3 linked regions of the Homo sapiens genome follow. The protein of the gene in region 2 purifies or fractionates together with the protein of the main gene of each other region. This does not show direct contact. Each region holds a gene or a part of one and is shown on either strand. Other genes may lie near its edges.

Region 1 (3,500 bases), on a different chromosome or scaffold from region 2:
TAGGGAGACCTTGTCTCTACAAAAAATTTTAAAAAGTGTGATTTTTTTTAACGTATCATGACTACAAGTTATTTAATGACTATAAATTTAATGTGGACATTCTTAGAAGGGCTTTATCTAGTTTCCTATGTCAATTCATGGTTCAGACAAGGGCATCTGTGTCAAATAAAAGATTATGGCTACAATTTCCAAAAATTAATAAATGATTGAAAATTACTAGAATGATTTAATGAACAATTTGAGCTACAATGGTTATCACCTGGTGAGCATTTTTATAATCTATATAGGTTAATTTATTTAGAAAATGTTTTTAAATTTTATTTATGTTAATTTATATTACCACTGAATTTTCTTTTCTTTTCTTTTTTTTTTTTTTTTTTTTTGAGACAGAGTTTCACTCTTGTTGTCCAGGCTGGACTGCAATGGCGCGATCTTGCCTGAATGCAACCTCCAGCTCCCAGGTTCAAGCAATTCTCCTGCCTCAGCCTCCCAAGTAGCCGGGATTACAGGCATGCACCACCACGCTCGGCTAATTTTGTATTTTTAGTAGAGATGAGGTTTCACCATGTTAGTCAGGCTGGTCTTGAACTCCTGACCTCAGGTGATCCACCCACCTCAGCCTCCCAAAGAGCTGGGATTATAAGTGTGAACCACTGTGCCTGGCCTGAATTTTTAACCTCTTTGAATATCACACTTAACTGTATGTAACAGCCGCTTCATCCTTATATTTTTCAAACACACAAGGAACAGTTATAAAATTTTCACATATGAGACCACAAGTTTCAAAAGATTGGTATCATACCGAATACAGTTTCTCACCACAATGTGATCACTAGAAGTAAATAAAAAGATAACTAGCTGGCATGGTGGTTCATACCTGTGATCCCAACACTTTGGGAGGCTGAGGCAGGTGGATCACTTGAGCCTGGGAGTTCCAGACCATCCTTACAAAAAATACAAAAATTAGCCAGTTGTGGGGCTCATGCCTATAGTCCTAGCTACTCAGGAGGCTGAGGTGGGAGGATCACTTGAACCCCGGAAGCAGAGGTTGCAGTGAGCCAAAATCGCGCCACTGCACTCCAGCCTGGGCGACAGCCTGGGCGACAGAATGAGACCCTGTCTCAAGAAAAATATATATATTATATTATGTAAAAGTATATTATATATAATATAAAATATATATTTATATAATATATAAATATATAAAACATATATTTATATAATATATTATATAAATATATAATATATGTAATATATAAAATATATAATACATAATATATAATATAAAATATATTTATATAATATAATATAAAAATATAATATATTTATATAATATAATATAAAAATATATAATATAAAATATAAATATATTATATAATATAAAATATAAATATATATTTATATATTTATATTTATATATAAAATTTATATATAAAAATATATAAAAATACATACATAAAATATATATTTATATAATATATATTATATATTTTATATTTTTGGAAGTCAAGAGACAAGTATAATTAAAAAGATAACCAGAGACCTGGCACAGTGGGTCACACTTGTAATCCCAGCACTTTGGAAAACTGAGGTGGGAGGATCTGGCAGGAGTTCAAGACCAGCCTGGGCAAGGAAGAAAGACTGTCTACAAAAATTTAAAAATTAGCCTGGTGTGGTGGCATGTGCCTGTGGTCCTAGCTACCCAGGAAGGTGAGGCAGGAGGACTGCTTGAGCTTCAGAGTTTGAGGTTGCCACTGCATTCTAGCCTGGGTGACAGAATGAGACTCTGTCTCAAAGAAAAAAAAAAAAAAAGATAACTAGAAAAGTCTCATTCATTTTCAAAAAGAATTGATAAATTCATGGGTCAAAGGGGAAATTATAATGGAAATTAGAAATGTTCAGAACTAAATGATAATGAAATCATATGTCTCAAAACTTGTGGGATACAAGTAAAGCTGTACTTAGTAGGAAAATTATAGTCTTTAATAAACTGATAAGGAAAATTAATGAGCTAAGTATTCATCTCATGAAAGAGAATAGCAAAGTTATCTGCAAATAATAGGAAAATCAATCTAAAGAGAGCAGAAGGAAATATAGTAAAAAAAAAAAAAAGGTAGAAATTAGTGAAATTTTAAAAACCATCAGAAATACTGAATAGGGACAAAGTTTTGTCTTTGAAAACACTTATAAAAATGAAAAACATCCATGGTACTAAGAAAATGCACAGATAATATTCAGAATAAAAAGAGGGACATAGGTCGGCACAGTGGCTCACACCTGTAATCCTAGCACTTTGGGAGGCCGAGGCGGGTGGATCACCTGAGGTCAGGAGTTCGAGACCAGCCTGGCTAACAGGCGAAGCCCTGACTCTACTCAAAATAAAAAAATTAGCCAGGCATGGTGGTGGGCGCCTATAATCCCGGCTACTCCGGAGGCTGAGGCAGGAGAATCGCTTGAACCCGAGGGGCGGAGGTTGCAGTGAGCCAAGACTGTGCCACTTCACTCCAGCCTGGGCAAAAGAGCGAAACTCTGTCTCAAATTAAAAAAATAAAAGGGTTAGGGGGAGCGGGGCGGCCGTGCGCGGTGGCTCACGCCTGTAATCCCAGCATTTTGGGAGGCCAAGGCGGCTGGATCACCTGAGGTCAGGAGTTTGAGACCAGCCTGGCTAACATGGTGAAACCCCATCTCTACTAAAAATACAAAAAAGTAGCTGGGCATGGTGGCAAACGCCTGTAATCCCAGCCACTCAGGAGGCTGAGACAGGAGAATCACTTGAACCTGGGAGGCGGAGGTTGCAGTGAGCTGAGATTGCGCCACTGCACTCCAGCCTGGGCAACGAGAGCGAAACTCCATCTTAAAAAAAAAAAAAAGTTGGGGGGACAATTTTATATGCAAGAGGTAGATTGTTTGGACCAAACTTCCAACTGAGAATAATCAGAAAAGCTAGAGAAAATATTAAATATTTAATGTAAGATATAGAAAGCTTATGTGTGAGGGGATTAGAGCATTATCAGGGAAATGAAGAAATTGCAGGGTCAAGTTCTAAAAAATAGGAAAGCCAGTGATGTGAGCCCAGCATTTGAGCTCGCTTCTCTGAGAGACATCTGTCAATCTCAAAAGCAGCAGCAGCAATGAGGCTGAATGGTATTTCTTTCTTTCTTTCTTTCTTTTTTTTTTTGAGACAGAGTTTCATTCACTGTTGTTGCCCAGGCTGGAGCGCAATGGCGCAATCTTGGCTCATTGCAACCTCTGCCTCCCGGGTTCAAGCGATTCTCCTGCCTCAGTCTCTGGATTAGCTAGGATTATAGGCGCCTGCCACCACGCCCGGCTAATTTTTGTATTTTTAGTAGAAACGGGCTTTCTCCATGTTGGTCAGGCTGGTCTCGACCTCCTGACCTCAGGTGATCTGTCTGCCTCGGCCTCCCAAAGTGCTGGGATTACAGGCTTGAGCCACTGCGCCTGGCCTCTGAATGGTATTTCTAATGGACTCATGGGTGGGA
Region 2 (4,164 bases):
AGGTCTTTAGACTTCTACGCACCAGGTACCTGGTAGGGGGAGGGATTATAGTGGCAGAAGAGCAGTACCAGTGGCCCACACCACACACCCTGGCCTCAGCTGGCTGGGGCACACAAAACCAGGTGCTACCGTCAACGACTAGGCCCATAGGGTACTGCTGTCAAAACCTGCTGCCAACAACTTCCACACACTCCCCAAAACGCTCGGTAGGCGGTGGTGCGCAGCTTTCAATGCATCCGCCGCCAGGCGCTCACAGGCAAGGGAGAAAGAAGCCAGACGGAGCTCGGAGATGTGGAGGGCAGACGCAGGCGCATTTGGAAAAGGGACTGGCGGTGGGAGGCGCAGAGGGAAAAAGGAACGACACAATCGGGCTTCCTAGCCGCTGGCGGACCCGATGGGGCGTCCTGCGAGGGTTCGGCGAGGGTTCTGCCAGGATAGTAGCATTGCGCCCAAGGAGTGAGAGGCACCCGGGGCTACTGGAGCCAGACCCTCAACCCGCCCTAGTGGGAGGCGAAGAACAACGAAAGCCTCGTATTCCCATTTCTCTAATGGCTAATGACATTAAAGGTTTTCATATGGTTATTTGCCATCTGCATATCTTCAGTGAAGTGTCTGTTTATGTCTTCTGACTATTTTCTAATTGGATTTTTAAAAATAATTGATTTTTGAGTTATTTACATATTCTAGATACTGGTTGTATGCCAGATATATGGCTTGTAAATATTTTCTCCTAGGTAAACCTTTTCAGTATCGTTACAGGGTCTTTCACAAAGCAAAAGTTTTAAATTTATGGAGTCTAATTCATCAACATTTCTTTTTACCGGTCTTGCCACTAATGTCAATTTAAGAACCTTTTGCCTAGCCTTAGACAATAGTTTGTTGTTTTTTAAAACCGTTTTGTAATTTTACTCGTCACAGTTATATCTAGCCACTTAATTTTTATGTAAGGGTTATTTTTGGCGGGGGGGAATCTATAGATGTCCTGTCTTTTCAGTATCATTTGTGGAAAAGATTATCTGTCCTGCATTAAACTGCTTTTGGACTTTCGTCTAAAATCAGTTGGACCGGTTTTTGTTGGCAAAGTTTTGCCTGAAGCTTATTCCAACAGGTGAGAAAAAGTCCACAGTTTAACAGTTCCTCCCCAACCTGTAACCCCGCCTTGAACTTCTGGACTAGCCCCTCGATTGTTGTAGATGCCAAGCGGACCTCGCGCCGCTCTGCGTTGGGCCAGCCCCTCACAGCTGGTTTCTTACCACGTATTGCGCAAGCGGAATCTATGCCTGTTACCCACACTCCCTGCGCCCCCGCACCCCGCTCCTGTGCGCAAGTCGGAATATAAAACCGCGGAGGAGTGAGCTCTTGGGGTGTCCAGTTGGTTGCCGCGGCAGTCTCTCCGAGCAGCGCATTTGTCTTCTAGGCTGCTTGGTTCGTGCCTCCGAGAAAGGTAAGTCTTTCTTTCGCTTTTTTAGGGGTACTTGAAAACAACAAGTGTCAGACAAAGCAGCAGATGCTGTTGCGCAGTAGAAGTTTATGGGCGAGTTGTCCCTGAAACTGGAACCAGGTCTTTCTTGGCGCGATTACGCAAGAACCACCCGCAGCCCTGCGGGCTCCTGGCAGGTCCTGCAACTGCACTTTGGATAGTCCCGTTGGGAAGCTAGCACTTTTTAATATAGAAGAACGAGGTTTGATAAGTGTGCGAGCTTAAAGGTTGACACAGTGTCCACTATTACAGCTGCGTAGGTAGCTAGTGTTCAGGAAGTAATAGTGGAGTCATGTAGTGTGAAAGTAAGATTGAAATGGGCGAGGAGGGTAGCAGCCGCCACAGCCACCAGAGAGAAACCTGACCTTGCAGGTGCGTGGTGATGTCCATGAGCCAGGCTGGTGCCGCAACAGCAGCGGCGGGACCTTGAGCTCCGCACGGCCGCTGGGTTTGGACGCCCTCTGGTTCCTGGAAACTTTCACCTCCCCCTCAGCCTGAGGCCAGGTGGCCTGGGAAGGTGGAAGGAGTGTGGAGGGGAGTGGGGGGGGGGGTCCACTGCCTGAGAATGAGAATTCTCTTCACATCTGGAAACTTCAGTTATCACGTGTGTCCTTTACCAATTTTTTTTCTTTTATTTTCTTTTTGATAGAGACGGCGGTCTCCCTATGTTACCCAGGCTAGTCTTGAACTCCTGTGCTTAAGCGATCCTCCCACCTTGACTTCCCAAAGTGCTGGAATTACAGGCATGAGCCAATGCGCCCGGCTGCTTTACCAATTTTCTATGAATGAATTTGTACATACATCCCCTAGAGCAGGAAGTAATGTAAAACAGAATAATTAGTAATGCACATTTCCTAATGTGGGATGTTGGTGGCCAAGAGATATTTGGTCTTTACTGGAACTCTTGATACTAACATGGAGTTTATAATAGTTGTGGAGAGTGCAGACAAGGCTAGGATTTCTGTGACTAGAGAACTCTTAGTGCGTGAAGACCTAAGGAAAGCTGGATTGTTGATTTTTGTTAATAAATAAGATGTGAAAGATTGCATCACTGTAGCAGAAATCTCCTAGTTTTTTAAGCTAAATTCTATTAAAGGTCATCATTGCTAAAGGAATTGTGCCCAGGATTTGGATAGCTGATGTCATTACTTAATATTAGATGATATCAACTAACCACATCTCATAGACTGGAATAAAGTGCTAGATTTTACCTGAAAGCTGCAAAAATGAATGGTTTAGATATATGTATGTATTTATTTTATATCAATTTCAAATATTTACTGTATTAACCTCCCTGGCCCCCTTTAATCAAGAATATAAAATCATCTACTTAAATTTTGCCACTTAAGTTTAGAACACTCTTAGAATCACACTATCTTAAAGAAGCCAGACTAGAATTAGAAGCAAGTTAAGTCTGAAGATATAACAACCAGCAACAACATTTTTTTTTTTCAAATGAAAACTCTAATATGGGGTGGGTATGTTGTGTCACACCTGTAATCCCAACACTTTGGGAGGCTGATGCAGGAGGATCACTTGAACACAGGAGTTCAAGACCAGCCTGGACAACATAGCAAAACCCTGTCCCTACAAAAAATAAGAAAATTAGCTGGGCATGGTGTCACATGCCTGTAGTCCCAGCTACTCGGGAGGCTGAGGTGAGAGGATTGATTGATCCCAGGAGGTTGAGGCTGCAGTGAGTCATGATCGCATGACTGCACTCCAACCTGAGGGACAGAGCAAGACCCTGACTCAAAAAAAAAAAACAAAAAAAAAAAAACCACCACCAAAACTCTAATATGGACATATTACTCTCTCATGGGACTTGCACATTCTAAAAAGGGTCCTTTTCCCCAGTACTGGGAGAGTATGTGTTCAACTACGCAGCCAGCAAGACAGGCTAGTTTATATAGGGAGTGTGCTATTCACAAAAAGCCTCTCTTCTCTTTCTGGTATTGTACATGACACAATCATAGCTGTACCTGAAGAGAAGTGCATTTTAAGGACCATCATCACCTAGAAACATGTATAAATTTCTATACCTAGTGCCACAGGAATGACATTGCCTTGTACTATTCCTACCTCTGTCCAGAGGCCAGCTATGTGGTCTGTCTGCATGGTGCCTAGAACTTTTTCCATCTGACCTAGGATGCTTCTGAAGCAGTCCCCCTGGGCAGCTGTCTGGTATTTAGGATATACCTGTGAGAAAAGTTTCTTACAAACCTAATCTACTATGTTTATTCCTGAACTCAAAAAGTTCATTGACTGTTCAAATCCTGAAATTTTCTCTATTTCCATAAGGCTGAATTAAAAGTACTTTGTTAAAGGTAGTAGCCATGGCAAAAGAAAAACCACTGTTCTGTAGAAAAACTCATTCAATATTTACAATCTTTTCTAATCAGAGATTAGATCCTGAAGAGAAAGGTTCATATATATATATATATATATATATATATATATATTTTTTTTTTTTTTTTTTTTTTTTTTTTTTTACTCCACTGTCATTGTGACTAAGGATTCATGAACTAAGACCCCTCCCTCAGCTCTTGGTGGCACATGGTGACAGCATGCTCAGAGCAAAGGTGCTCCCCATGCCTCTTCTGGGGCTGCACTGACTGCAGGTACCTCCCCTCTCTACATCCCACACCACTGATACCAAAAACCCCCTCCTTTCTCCTGTACTG
Region 3 (3,500 bases), on a different chromosome or scaffold from region 2:
AACCAAAGTTCACGTTGCTGATAATTGGCAGTTGACCTCAGTGCAAAAGTGCCTTCCTTCTGCTCCTGTTTTGCCCTCAGTTTTGGGCTGGTGATTCCTTACTATCTTGTTAGCATTTCAGTGCTTTTAAGATTTTTAACAAAATGTTTTTGTTAAAAAACATCTGTACTTTTAATTCTTTTCCTTTTTTTTTTTTTTTTTTTTTGAGACAGGGTCTTGCTCTTACCCAAGCTGGAGTGCAGCGGTGTGATCTCGGCTCACTGCAGCCTCCTCCTCTGGGTTCAAGCAATTCTCCTGCCTCAGCCTCCTGAGTAGCTGGGACTACAGGTGTGTGCAACCACGCCCGGCTAATTTTTTGTATTTTAGTAGAGACTGGGTTTCACCATTTTGCCCAGGCTGGTCTCTAACTCCTAAGCTCAGGCAATTCGCCTGCCTTGGACTTTCAAAGTGCTAGGATTACAGGCGTGAGCCACTGCGTCCGGCCATATTTTTCATTGGTAGAATTGATCTGCATAATCTAGTTTGTCGCTTTCAGGAATGAAAGTTTTTCACAGAGATCTTGGAATGCAATTTAATGTATAACAAATAAGATTCTCACTGATTTTATTTAATGTCAACTGCAGTAAAATATTAATACAGGTATTAACCTAAACTTGTGTTTCTCAATGTGGTCTACCTGAGAACCACCTCTCAGAAGCTGAGTTTCTTGTTTAGAATGCAGATTTTTGGGTCCCACTTCCTCAGATGTTTTTCTGCTTTATATAGATGATGAAATAGAGCCAGAAGTTGTTTGTCTTAGTTTGTAGATTGCTACAAAGTTGATGTCAGCCCAAATGATCTGACTACAACTGACTAGAAAATTAGGTCTATCTTACAACCAAGAAATACAATGTAGCCAGAATGGGCAGGTTAGAGCAGCCTTCTCTGGAGGAGTAAATGCCTCCTGTTAATGTTCTGTAAATGTTCTGTCTTGGATCCTCTTTACTAAAGTTTCATTTTAAGAATTTAAACTGTAAATGTAATGCTGCAAATGGACATTGAGGTTAGCAGTGTAGCCATTCTGTGAACACATTAAAATGTTACAAAAATTTAAATTTGGAAGTTTTAGGTTTTGTTTCTGTTTTTGACAATTGCTGGGTTTAGTAGACACTATATATTAAACCTAGCAAATCTCAGAATAAATTTGTGTATTGGAAATTATTATATAAATCTGTGTGTTGGAAAACCAAATGCAGTCATGCACCACATAAATACTTAGCCATTATATTAAAGTTGCCTATGGTATTCAATACAGTCACATGCTGTATAGGTGTGTAGCCTGGGAGCAATAGTCTATATCATAGCCTAGGTGCGTAGTAGGCTATACCATCTAGGTTTGTGTAAGTATACTCTGATGTTTGAACAACAATACAATCACCCAGAGACACATTTCTCAGAACATATAATCCACACATGACTGTAATGGTGAATGGGAAATTAGTTCTCATTACCCCCAGTCCCTTCTTTCTCATTAGGTTACTCTGGTTAGGTTTTTGGTGTTTGTTTTCAGAAAGGGTTTATTTGTATTAAAGTATGTGCGTATATGAGTGGAGATATATATATATATATATATATATATATATATATATATATATATTTCCATATCCAAAGGGGATTTCGGCATACATCCTATACCTTGCTTTAGTGTTCCTTCATATCAACTCAGATCTGTTTCATTTGTGACTGCAAAGCATTCCATTTTTGCATATTCCATTATAGTACTAAGTTTATAATAAGCTTTGTGTGCTACCCCAAAGAAGACAACGCTATGATTGTCAAGATCAGATTTAATTCCTGTAATCATGAATTTTGTCAGTTGGGAGAGACAGACCATAGGTCAAACTAATTTATAATTACAGACTGAGACATCTTATGGTGGAAAGAAAAGAAAGCTTTATAGGAGTGTGTGTACAACCAAGAAATCTTACTTAACCGGAATGTGCAGGTTGGAGAAAGCATCTCTGGGGAGTGAAACTTTGAAATGAGAGCCAAAGGATGTGCAGGACTTGTTCAGAGCTGTGGAAGAACCTTCTAGGTGAACATGGAAAGCAAAGGCATTAGATTCTTTATAATTTTTTCATGGTAGAGCTCATAAGTGAATAAATCTGGAGATGGACATATTTTGTTTTTTTAATTTTTATGTTTTTAAGAGACAGTGTCTCATTGTGTTGCCAAGGCTTGTCTTGAACTCCTGGCCTCAAGCGGTCCTTCTGCTTCGGCCTCCCAAAGTGCTGGGATTGCAGGTGTGAGCCATGGTGCCTGGCTGAGATGGACATGTTTAAGGCTTTTGATATTCCTATTGTCAGGTTGCTCTCCAGAAAAGATACGGGAACACTAGCTGGAAATAAGGATGCATGTGCACTACAGGTTTCCCTGTATTAAAAAGAAGTTATTGATGATGTGGTAGACAAACTGGAATCCTACTTGGATTTCTTTGATGTCAGAGTTCAGTATTTTTCTTATTTTTGATTAATATTCATAATTGCTAAACACTTTGTAAATGCTGACTCATTACCCAGCATCACTAGAAAAATTCATCAGTACTATTAGGAATTATTTATAACAAATACAAAATATTTACAGAGTTAGATACATTAGGAAGAATAATTTTCTTTATAATTACTCTAAAGGATAGATACTAGGTCAGTAATAATGTTTCCCCCAAATATTAGCACTTAACTGCTAAAATCAGGATGTTTTCCATTTTTAACTCTTTGTTCATAGGCATAATACGTTGCTATGAAAGTAAACACATGCAGGATTTTGTGAATTAAATATGTATTAAGATTTTAATTTTTACCAGATAACTTGATTCTATTTATTCATAATTTTTTTAGAGACAGGGTCTTGCTGTATTTCCCAGGCAGGCCTTGAACTCCTGTGCTCAAAAGATCTTCCTGTCTCTTGGGCAGCTGGGATTACAGGCTCTTGGGCAGCTGGGATTACAGGCTCGTGCCACTGTGCCTGGCTAAGATAAACTTGATTTTAACATGGATTCTATCTAAACTTGGTTTAGTTTTTTTTGGTAATCTGTAGATTACCTGTGGCATTCTACCATTTTTTTCTGCCTGGATATAACACATCTGCTTTAAGATTTGTTTTTCCAAAAGCAGTATTCTCCAGGTTCATACTAATCTTTTAGTGAGAAGGAACTTAGGATATCCTCTGGTGAGTCTTAACAGTAAACTTACTCAGGTCTGGTAACCACAAGTCTTGACAATGTCCCTAGCATATCTAGGGGAAGCTGGAGGTTGGTGGTTGTCAGTTATCTAACATGAGGTACATGTACATTTGGAGAGATAGGGAAGGCTTACCTAACATTAAGATTGGGACCTAGAGCTTTTGAAATAGTCTAAATGGCTATTTGATCCAGGGATTAAGTCTTTTAAAAAGATATCCAGAGGGCATAGTGAGTACAGTAGGCATCAGATTTTGGTTTTCTTAAACATGAATTACATAAA

What was found.
Region 1: the proteins of DIRAS3 (region 2) and DCAF10 purify together in Homo sapiens (affinity purification with mass spectrometry; 4 studies listed by BioGRID and IntAct, with this or other methods). This does not show direct contact.
Region 3: the proteins of DIRAS3 (region 2) and NAP1L1 purify together in Homo sapiens (affinity purification with mass spectrometry; one large-scale study listed by BioGRID and IntAct). This does not show direct contact.

What each region holds. Positions count from the first base shown.
Region 1 is NC_000009.12:37,807,297-37,810,796, forward strand, and holds part of DCAF10 (DDB1- and CUL4-associated factor 10), read left to right. Parts: intron 1-3,500. UniProt on the Homo sapiens protein: May function as a substrate receptor for CUL4-DDB1 E3 ubiquitin-protein ligase complex.
Region 2 is NC_000001.11:68,047,828-68,051,991, reverse strand, and holds the start of DIRAS3 (GTP-binding protein Di-Ras3 precursor), read left to right. Parts: upstream 1-1,364; 5' UTR 1,365-1,444; intron 1,445-4,164.
Region 3 is NC_000012.12:76,074,686-76,078,185, reverse strand, and holds part of NAP1L1 (nucleosome assembly protein 1-like 1), read left to right. Parts: intron 1-3,500. UniProt on the Homo sapiens protein: Histone chaperone that plays a role in the nuclear import of H2A-H2B and nucleosome assembly.